2 separate regions of the Homo sapiens genome follow, and region 2 is linked to region 1. Evidence: fine-mapped expression QTL. A gene starts in region 1. The other region holds a variant in brackets. All regions are shown on one strand. Distances are between the middles of the regions. Region 1 holds the start of MFSD6 (major facilitator superfamily domain containing 6). Region 2 has its middle 22 kb from the start of MFSD6.

Region 1 (5,377 bases):
GCTGAGGTTAGAGTGGTGTGCTTTGAAGATGGAGGAAGGGTCCATGAGCCAAAGTATGTGAGCAGCCCCTAGAAGTGGAAAAGGTAAAAGAAATGGGTTATTCTCTACAGCCTACAGAAAGAATACAGCCTTGTAGTCACCTTGGTTTTAGTTCACTAAAACCCATTTTGGACTCTTGACCTCCAGAATCGTAAGATAATAAATGTGTGTTTTAATCCACAAAGTTTACGATAACTTGTTACAGCAGCAATAGGTAACTAATACACTGGGCATGGGTATAAGGGTGAAAGGAGCATTGAGAAGAAGGGCCTTGTACAACTGGGTGGATGGCTGTTTGGGACCCCAGAGTCTGGGAACCCAGAAGCAAGAGTGAATGAGGGGCCGGGTGCAGTGGCTCACACCTGTAATCCCAGTACTTTGGGAGGCTGAAGTGGGGGGATCATTTGAGGTCAGGAGTTTGAGACCAGCTTGGCCAACACGGTGAGACCCCATCTCTACTAAAAATACAAAAATTAGCCAGACATGGTGGCACATGCCTGTAATCCCAGCTATTCAGGAGGCTGAGGTAGGAGAATCACTTGAACCCGGGAGGCAGAGGTTGCAGTGAGCTGAGATCACGCCACTGCAATCCGGCCTGGGCGACAGAGTGAGACTCCATCTTAAAAAAAAAAAACGAGTAGGGGAAGAACAGAAGGTAAAGAAACATTGACGTGGCACTTAGTGAGGTTGGGGTGCCTGTGACACATCCCACTGGACAACTGGCCATAAGGATCTGGCCCTCAGGAGAAAAGCTGACCCCGAGAGAGGGCTTTTGGAGCACCCTCAAATATTCTGTGATTGAAGCCAAGGAGTGAGAGAATTCGCAGAAACAAACAGAATCAGAAGAAAGGAAAGCCTAGAACAAAACCCAAGGAAAACTAAAACTCAAGTGGAGCAAAGGGGAGTGGCCAGAGAGGAAGAGGAAAACCCAAGACTTGTGGGTCACAGAAGGCAGAGGAGGGGAGAGTTTCAAGGAGGAAAATCCAACACTTACGGAGCACCAAAAGAAGAGAAGGGAAGAGTTTCAAGGAGGGGACCAGTGTCTCGTGTTCCTGACAGGAGAAAGAAATGCCTGGAGAAAGAAATGATTGAATATCTACGTCAATATTGAAAGTGGATTTAGCATGAGGCTACTATAGTTTAAGCTTCAGAGACCCTTCATAAGCTCAGGAAGGGGCCCTAGAAACTTCGTATTTGTAATTGTTTTATTCTTCCTAAAGAGGGACTCAAAATTCAGAAACTTCAGGGCCTATCAAATTCTTACCAGTATGATTTCACGGTTAAGAGCTTAAAGCCTGGAGACAAAAGAAGCCTGCTTTCCCTTTCGCTGTTTAGTAACTTTGGATGGGTCACATTAACTTTCAGCCTCGGCTTTCCTCAGTTGTAAAATGGGAATAACGTTTCCTACACCTATAGGGTTATAAGGCTCAAAGAGTACCTACACAGTGCCCCGTACATAATCGATGTTTATAAGCGTTAGCTACCATTGTCACTCTTGTCGTTGTTGCCGTTAGCTACCATTGTCACTCTTGTCGTTGTTGCCAGAACAAGACAATAAACTCCTTAAGAACAGGATGTGGCATCCCCCAAAGCCCATCACAGGCACACAGACATACTTGCCAAGTGAATACTCCACTCTCCCCCAACTCTCTGCGTGTTTAACTAGAAATACAACTTTAATTATATTCTTAGTGCGACACACACGGTTGGCTTTTCAGCAAGATGCCAGTAGCAGCTTCCTGAAAAAGGGTGCCTTCGTCTCAGTGTTCCCCCTTCTTGGTGAGCCCCGAAACTCACAGATCGTTTGTCTCCCGCACCCCGCCGGCTCCTCCCTCCCGGGTCAACCTGGGACAGACGCGGAGATAACGCACTGACAGCATTAGCATTGTGTGTGCCACTTAAAAGGCGCTCAAGGAATAAGGGATGTTAGTACATTTTCCCCCACATTTCCTGGCCCGCACTCATTGCCTGGGGGCTCAGCGGAAGTCGCTTGGGGGTGCGGGGGGGTGGAGGGTGCGGTAGGGATGGAGCCTCGCCCAGTGCTTTCGCCTCCTCAGCGTGCTCCCCGGGCCCGGCTGGGTTCAGGTGTCCCTCCGGGCCGCCGGGGCGGGCTGGAGGCCGGGAGCGGGCAGTCGACGCATCCGCCGCCGCCGCAGGAGGCGGAGCGCTGCACCTGGCGGCCGGTCCTCAGCGCCCGGCCCTGAAACGGGTCCAGCCGGTAGTGACCGGCGGCGGCGACTGTGAGGCCGGGGCCGGGGAGGAGGAGGAGCCGCAGCGGGAGAGAAGGTCGCGCCGGCGGGAGCGCTGGGCCCTCCGCCTCCGTCCTCCGTGGCCCCACCCGGTCCGCATCCCTCGCCTCGCCTCGCCGCGCCCCGCCCAGCCCGTCGCAGCCCCGGAGGAGCGCGCGAGCAGCCCGGGATGGTGCGCGCTGCCCCGACAGCCGCCGCCCCGGCGCCCCGAGCCGCCGCCCCGTGCTCCGGGGACAGGGCTCCCCGCGCCCCGCGCAGCTGAGCGCTGCCGCCGCCGCAGCAGGTGAGTCGGGCCCGGCTTGCGGAGAAGGGGCTCGCAGACCCGCCCTGGCCTCCCCCGCCCCGCACGGGCCCAGCCGGAGGGCGGGTAGGCACCTCAGCCGCGCACACCTGCTGCCGGGAAAGGGGCTTCGGGGCCGGGGCTCGGAGCCCAGCGTGCGCCGCTGTCTCCGCTCGGGCCTCGCTCGCCCGCCGCTCCCTCCCTCCCTCCCTCCCCCGGCTTCCGTGTCGGGTGTCATCTTTGTGGGGTGCTGGGGGAGGCTGCCGCCTGCGCCCCCAGCGCGCCCCGTGCTGGCAGCACTTCCGCAAACGTAACTGGAGTCGGGAAAACAAAGGCGCTGCCCAGGGAGCCCTCGCCGGGCGCCCACAGCTGCTGCCGCGGGTGGGGACGGAGGGTGAGCGCCGATGCCCGGGTCCTCCTCCGCCCGGGCCGACCCGCGCCCTCGCCATAAACATCCCTGGGAAAAAGGAGGAGGTGAGAACCTCCACACAGCCCCAGTGACAAGGACGCGGCCACTTGTGTGGCAGGAGGAGGAAATTGACAACGTCTGCCCTCCCAGGTTAATAAATACGGAAAAAAAAATACCTCTGCTCTGCCAGCCACCATCCTAGCAGACATCCCCCACCTCGTGCTTTACTTCCACTTGGTCTAACATGTCTCTGGAGCCCTTTTGAGATACTACTGGGGGTTGCTAGTCTTTCTGGGTCATATTTATTGCCCATAGAGCAATTTTCCTGCAAATTTAGGTAAGATGGTGGAAAAATACAAACGCAACTTTCCCCCTCGTTAATCCCATCCCCACATGGACAGACAGGTGGGTTAATTACCTTTATGCATTCGCAACCACGGACGTTTCTTTTCATCCCAAAAAGATTGAATAAGCACCTCACAGAACTACTGGAACATATAATACCTTGCTTATTAGTGTGCAAAAGACTTAAAGAGTTGGGGTTCTAATCCCAACTGGTATTTAAATAGATGTGTGTGCTTGGGCATGTCACATCTTCCTGAGCCCCAGTTTTCTCACATGGAAAAGAGGATGGTTGGATATTATAGTGGCCAAAATTTCCCCTAATCCTTCTAGAAGTCCATGATTTTCTAGAAATCTAACCTCTTAAGTATAGATGAATGTGAAGGGTGGGTGGACATACAGTTGACTAAAATATGTAATAAAAGGAGATGTGTACTTGGTAGGTCCTTTCCCCAAGATGTGGGCACTAGCCAGCTAAAAGTGTATGCATCTGTTTTAGCCTTGTTAAGTAAAAGGATAGGATCCTCCTCTTTGGGAAGCTTGGCTTTTGACACGTCAAGCTGCTAGCAGAGGTGCAGGATATGGTCAGCTGTTTAGTGATAGTCAGATGGCTTGTATTTATCACGAGGTGTAAGTAAAATTTAGGATTGCTTAGGGGAAGGATGGGACATTGTTAATGAGCCCAGTGCAGGATGCTCTGGGGAAACAGGAGGAGAGAACATCACTTCAATAATGCATTAAAGCTACTAAGTAGTTGTGTGTCCTTCATGTTTACAGCAGTTTATTTCTAAGGCACTTTCCATCTCTATACAAATAAATATAAAAGCGTGAAGGCAAATAAAACACAAAGACAAAAAGCAGAGTTCACAGGTATTTGGTGGTGTGAGTATTGGATCACCAATTCCATCATATATAGTGTCTGGACTATTAACAGTATTAAGGCATTTTTTTGGGTACTTATTATGTTCAAGACACCATTGTAAACATTTAGTATCTCAATCTCTGTAAGATAAATCTTTCCCCTAGTTCTGTGCATGACAAAAAGGAAGCTCAGAAGGGTTAAGCAACTTACACAAACCACATAATCAGTAAGAGGTAGAGTTAAATTTGACCTCATGTTTCTGGCTCCAAAGCCCAGGAAATTTCCACATGGTGTCCCTCCCTAATCAGAACCTATTAAGTCTCTCCACCTACGCAGATGTCTTCCTTAGCTTCGTGCCTTTGAAAATTAACTTGATTTCAATGTACATGTATTACTTATGTTAACATTTAGCCATGTAGGATAATTTATATATTTATTACGTATGTATATTAATGTGTGTATGTTTACCCTTTTGTCCTCACCAGTTGTAGATTGAAGGCAGTATGAAGCTGACAGGTTTCTTTGTTTTACTTCCTTTGACAGCAAATCTTAATTTGGCAATCTCATTATAGGGAAAGGAAGAAATGCAAAAAATGTGTGTCTGCTAGCTATTTTGCACATTGGCTGAAAAATCAAGATGCTGTATATTAAATGAAAAAAATGGCTGGGCAAGGTGGCTCATGCCTGTAATCCCAGCACTTTGGGAGGCCGAGGCAGGTGGATCACGAAGTCAGGAGTTCAAGACCAGCCTGGCCAAGATGGTGAAATCCCACCTGTAATAAAAATACAAAAATTAGCTGAGCGTGGTGGCGGGCGCCTGGAATCCCAGCTACTCAGGGGGCTGAGGTAGAGAATTGCTTGAATCCGGGAGGTGGAGGTTGCAGTGAGCCGAGATCGCGCCACTGCACTCCAGCCTGGGCAACAGAGCGAGACTCTATCTCAAAAAAAAGAAAAAAAAAAACTAGCTTCAGAAGAAATTTATATACATTTGTTTAAACCTGCATACAGGCACACATACGCCTTTTTGTCCCCAAACTGTTGACAGTAGTTTTTTTTTTTTTTTTTCAGACAGAGTCTCGCTCTGTCACCAGGCTGGAGTGCAGTGGCTCGATCTCGGCCTACTGCAACCTCTGCCTCCTGGGTTCAAACTATTCTCCTGCCTCAGCCTCCCGAGTAGCTGGGATTACAGGCACATG
Region 2 (5,377 bases), 23 kb before region 1:
TGCAATCTCTGCCTCCTGGGTTCAAGTGGTTCTCCTCTGCCTCAGCCTCCCAAGTAGCTAGGACTATAGCCAAGAGCTACCACGCCCGGCTAATTTTTTGTATTTTTAGTAGAGATTGGGTTTCACCAAGTTGACCAGGCTGGTCTGGAACTCCTGAGTTCAGGCAGTCCACCCACGTAGGCTTCCCAAAGTGCAAGGATTATAGGTGTGAGACCGCGCCCGGCATTTTTTTTTTCTTCTTTTTTTTTTTGAGACAGAGTCTCACTCTGTCACCCAGGCTGGAGTGCAGTGGTGTGATCTGGGCTCACTGCAACCTCCACCTCCCAGGTTCAAGTGATTCTCTGCCTCAGCCTCCCGAGTAGCTGGGACTACAGGCACGTGCCACCATGCCCGGCTAATTTTTTGTGTATTTTTAGTAGAGAAGAGGTTTCACCATGTTGGCCAGGATGGTCTCGATCTCTTGACCTTGTGATCTGCCTGCCTCGGCCTCCCAAAATGATGGGACTACACAGGTGTAAGCCACCACGCCCGACCCTTTTTTTTTTTTTTGAGACAAAGTCTTGGTCTGTTGCCCCCGCTAGAGTGCAGTGGTGTGATCTCTGTTGGCTCACTGCAACTGCCACCTCCCAGGTTCAAGTGATTCTCTGCCTCAGCCTCCCGAGTAGCTGGGACTACAGGCACGTGCCACCATGCCCGGCTAATTTTTTGTGTATTTTTAGTAGAGAAGAGGTTTCACCATGTTGGCCAGGATGGTCTCGATCTCTTGACCTTGTGATCTGCCTGCCTCGGCCTCCCAAAATGATGGGACTACACAGGTGTAAGCCACCACGCCCGACCCTTTTTTTTTTTTTTTTGAGACAAAGTCTTGGTCTGTTGCCCACGCTAGAGTGCAGTGGTGTGATCTCTGTTGGCTCACTGCAACTGCCACCTCCCAGGTTCAAGAGACTCTCCTGCTTCAGCCTCCCGTGTAGCTGGAATTACAGGTGCCCACCACCACATCCGGTTAATTTTTGTATTTTTAGTAGAGACGGGGTTTCACCATGTTGGCAAGGCTGGTCTCGAACTCCTGATCTCAAGTGACCCACCCACTTTGGCCTCCCAAAGTGCTGGGATTACAGGCATGAGCCACGGCGCCCAGCTTGCATCATTTTAAATAAACCATCTTCCTTAACCAATTCGTTCCCTTTATTGTGTTTTAAATTGTCATTAAATAATCCTTAAAAAACTGGAAAAATATGGAGAAGTAAAAAGGAGGAGAAAAATCCAACATTCAAGCATAGCTACTGAGAACATTTTAGCCAATGTTCCTAGAATTGTTTTTCTTCTATGAGTAAAAGAATAAAGATTCAAACCACAGAATGGCAGAAGATATTTGTAATACATATCTGATGAAGGACTTGTGTCTAGAAGAATAATTAAATCAATTCAAAAGTTTACAAGAAATAAAGAGCCAATGAACATGCTTGATAATGTACATACTTGAACAATTCTCTGTTTCATTAAGATAAATGTTTTTATTTGTGTTTTTGTTTTTTGAGATGGAGTCTTGCTCTGTCGCCCAGGCTGGAGTGCAGTGGCACAATCTTGGCTCACTGCAACCTCCGACTCCAGGGTTCAGGCGATTCTCCTGCCTCAGCCTCCCAAGTAGCTGCAATTACAGGTGACTGCCACCATGCCCAGCTAATTTTTGTATTTTTAGTAGAGACGAGGTTTCACTGTGTTGGCCAGTCTGGTCTGAAACTCTTGACCTCAGGTGATATGCCTGCCTTGGCCTTCCAAAGTGCTGGGATTACAGGCATGAGCCACTGTGCCTGGCCAAGATAAATGTTTAGAGGTAAAACTGCTAGATCAAATATGTACATTTTAAATGTGGGTACCTATTGACAAAGGGCCCTCTAGAAAAGGTACACCAATTAACCCTTCATCAGTCGGGTGTGGTGACTCATGCTTGTAATCTCAGCACTTTGGGAGGCTGAGGCAAGAGGATCACTTGAACCCAGGAGTTACCAGCCTGGACAACATAGCAGCAAAACAAAACAACCTCTCATCAACAGAGGATGAGAATGCTCGTTACTTATATCCTTGCCAACACTAGATGATATCAGTCTTTCAAAATCTAATACGTAAAAAAGGTAAATCAGGTTGTTTTAATACTCTATTGCTTTCTTTAGAACTAATCATATGCTGATGAGATTAGTTGGCCAATTGTATGTAATTAGTGAAGGCCACTGTGTTACTTGACTTGTATGATTTTATGATGCAAAGTAGAAAAAAGTTTAAATAGTTGTATTTTACAGTCAGTGAGAAACAT[T/C]ATAGAGAAGTGTGAACTCAATAGAAGTTTGAACTTCAAGAAGCTTTCGAAGGATTTGAGCTGTCCAGCCACACAATGAGCCACATTCTAACTGCTGTTAATCCTACAGATATTAGACACATTTAAGTAAAATCTAGATGACCTTTTTTTCTGGGATTCCAGCCGTGATATCTAGTATTCATGATGAATCAGATACCCTATATTAAATTTTTTAAGTATAAAATTATTTTTGAGACAGTGTCTTGCTCTGTCACCCAGGCTGGAGAACAGTGATGTAATCATTGTAGCCTCAAGCAATCCTCCCACCTCAGCATCCCAAGTACCTGGGACTACAGGTGCATGCCACCACACCTCACTAATTTTTAAATATTTTTTGTAGAGATGAGGTTTCGCCGTGTTGGCCAGGCGGGTCTTGAACTCCTTGGCTCAAGCAATCCGCCTGCTTCGGCCTCCCAAAGTGCTGGGATTACAGGCATGAGCTTCCACTCCCAGCTGTAAAATTCAAATATGTATACTTTTATTTTATTTTATTTTATTTTATTTTATTTTATTTTATTTTATTTTATTTTATTTTATTTTATTTTATTTTATTTTATTTTTTGAGACAGTGTCTCGCTCTGTTGCCCAGGCTGGAGTGCAGTGGCGTGACCTCGGCTCACTGCAACCTCTGCCTCCTGGGTTCAAGCGATTCTCATGCCTCAGCCTCCTGAGTAGCTGGGATTACAGGTACACATTAACATGCCTGGCTAATTTTTATATTTTGTAGTAGAGATAGTGTTTCGCCATGTTGGCCAGGCTGGTGTTGAACCCCTTACTTCAGGTGATCCACCTACCTCAGCCACCCAAAGTGCTGGGATTACAGGCGTGAGTCACTATGCCAGGCCTAATATGTATACTTAAAAATATATACATTCTTTATGCATTTTCACCTAAAGATACCATCTATTTCTGCAGCTTCAACTATGACTATATATTTGATCCCCAAATTTATAAAAGGAAGAAAGGAAGGAAGGCATAAATTGGAATAGGAAAAAGCCCTAATCTCTCTTTTCAACTCCAAACCCACATTTCCAACTGCCCACTGGCCATTTCCACCTCCATGTCTTGCCAGTCCATGGAACACAACAGGTCCCAAAGTAATCATCTTCCCTCTCCCCCTCACCCTGGCTCCCAGTTAGACTCCAGTATTATGGTTTTCTGATCATAGATCTCCCCTTTATATTCTTCCCTGAGGAAAAATTCTGAAGTTCTGTTCTCATGTAGGGGCTTTCTCCCTGCTCTCTCCCCATTTCCTGACTTTCAACATTTTTTCTTCATTTCAACTTCCACATCACCACTTTGGCAAGACCTCTTCTTGCCTCTGACCCATGCTAGTACACTGCTACAGTCTGAATGTATGCGTCCCTCCAAAATTCATATGTTGGAACTTAAACCCCAAAGTGACAATATTAAGAGGCAGGGTTTTTAAGAGGTTTTAAGGAGTTATGATAGCTCTGCCCTCATGAGTGGGATTAGTGCCCTCAGAAAAGGAGTCAAGGAGCCAGGTGCGGTGGCTCATGCCTGTAATCCCAGCACTTTCGGAGGCCAAAGCGGGTGGATCATTTGAGGTCAGGAGTTCGAGACTAGCTTGGCCAACCTGGTGAGACCCTGTCTCTATTAAAATACAAAAATTAGCCAGGTGTGGTGGCACGCACCTGTAATCCCAGCTATTCGGGAGGCTGAGGTAGGAGAATCGCTTGAACCCGGGAGGCAGAGGTTGCAGTGAGCCACGATCTCACCACTGCACTCCAGCCTAGGTGACACAGTGAGATTCCATCTCAAAAAAAAAAAGTCAAGGGCTCAAGGAAACCAGGTAGGCCCTTTTTGCCTTTTTGCCCTTCTATCTTCCTCCATGTGAGGATGCAGCAACAAAGCACCATCTTGGAAACAGAGCACCACCCTCACCAGACACCAAATCTACTGGTGCCTTGATCTTGAAATTCTCAGCTTCCAAAACTGTGAGAAATAAATTTTCTTTTTTGCAAATTACCTGGTGTTAGGTATTTTGTTATAGCAGCAGAAACATACTAAGACACACACACCCACTGCCAGCAGGGCTTTGAGCATCGGCAGTCGTTTAAGGAAGCCTACATTAGGGGTTCTGCTGCCGTGGATGATATATGGCTGTAGGTGGGGCACAACTCTCTGTGTTACAGTCTCTTCATTAGTAAGATAGTCACAAGAGGCCCTTCCAATGCCAACATTGTAGAACTGATTCTTAGGCCCTTGTTTCCCTAATAACTCTGGTGACTTTCTGCTAGCTCCTAGGCTTTAGCTTGGCATTCAAGGCCTTCTTCCTGCTCGACCCCATCCCCCACAAAAAAGGATTTGAAAGAATAACAGGTAGGCAGTGAAACTGCAGGCAGAGCACCAAGCTCCTGCTCTACATTCCCCTTTTCTCTGAGATCTGAAGCCCTTCGATGTTGGCTGCTCAAAGTCCCTAAACTCCAATTTCTGTCTCACCAGGCCAGTGAGGCAGCTGCAAGCAGGAGTTCTCTTTCTCTGTCTCTAAGTCCCTCAATATGAATTTGCAAATGTCTTGGGCTAGGTAAAGATTTTTTAAGCAAAATACTGAGCACTAATCATAATGAAGAAACAGGAAATAACCTTGATGATCATCGATAGAAGAATGGTTGAAATAAAATGTCTAAATATAATGCTATATTATACAGCCAATAAGAAAGAGGAGTTAGATCTAGATGCATTGGGATGAAAAGATATACATGGTATACTGTGTTGCTAAGTGAAAAAAGCAATTTATAGAAGAGTGATCCAGTTTGTAAATTTAAAAAATATTTTTAAAAATCTAAGTATATACAACAAACTACTCACAGTAATTATGCCAAAGGGAGGGCCTACAAAAGTATCTTCATTTTCTCTATTATGGTTGTTGTTTGTTTGCAATAAGCAAGAATTACTTTTATAACTAGGGAAAACAGTGATATAAAAGTTGATACAACATTTCATTTAGAAAAAAGTAACATTTGGGCTACAAGTTATATATATTCTCTGGAATATAAACTTGAT

What was found. PIP is the estimated chance that this variant, and not a neighbour inherited with it, causes the effect.
Region 2: its variant is fine-mapped to the expression of MFSD6 in whole blood (INTERVAL, PIP 0.99).

The regions. Positions count from the first base shown.
Region 1 is chr2:190,405,933-190,411,309 of GRCh38, forward strand. It overlaps MFSD6 (major facilitator superfamily domain containing 6), which reads left to right and starts at 2,423. Exons shown (of 8, transcript NM_017694.4): 1 at 2,423-2,571. RefSeq lists an enhancer at 1,694-1,743 and a silencer at 2,004-3,043.
Region 2 is chr2:190,383,241-190,388,617 of GRCh38, forward strand. No RefSeq gene overlaps it. Among named protein-coding and RNA genes, the nearest start is that of MFSD6, 22 kb to the right of the region's middle. The variant T/C (reference allele first, on the strand shown) is at 2,312.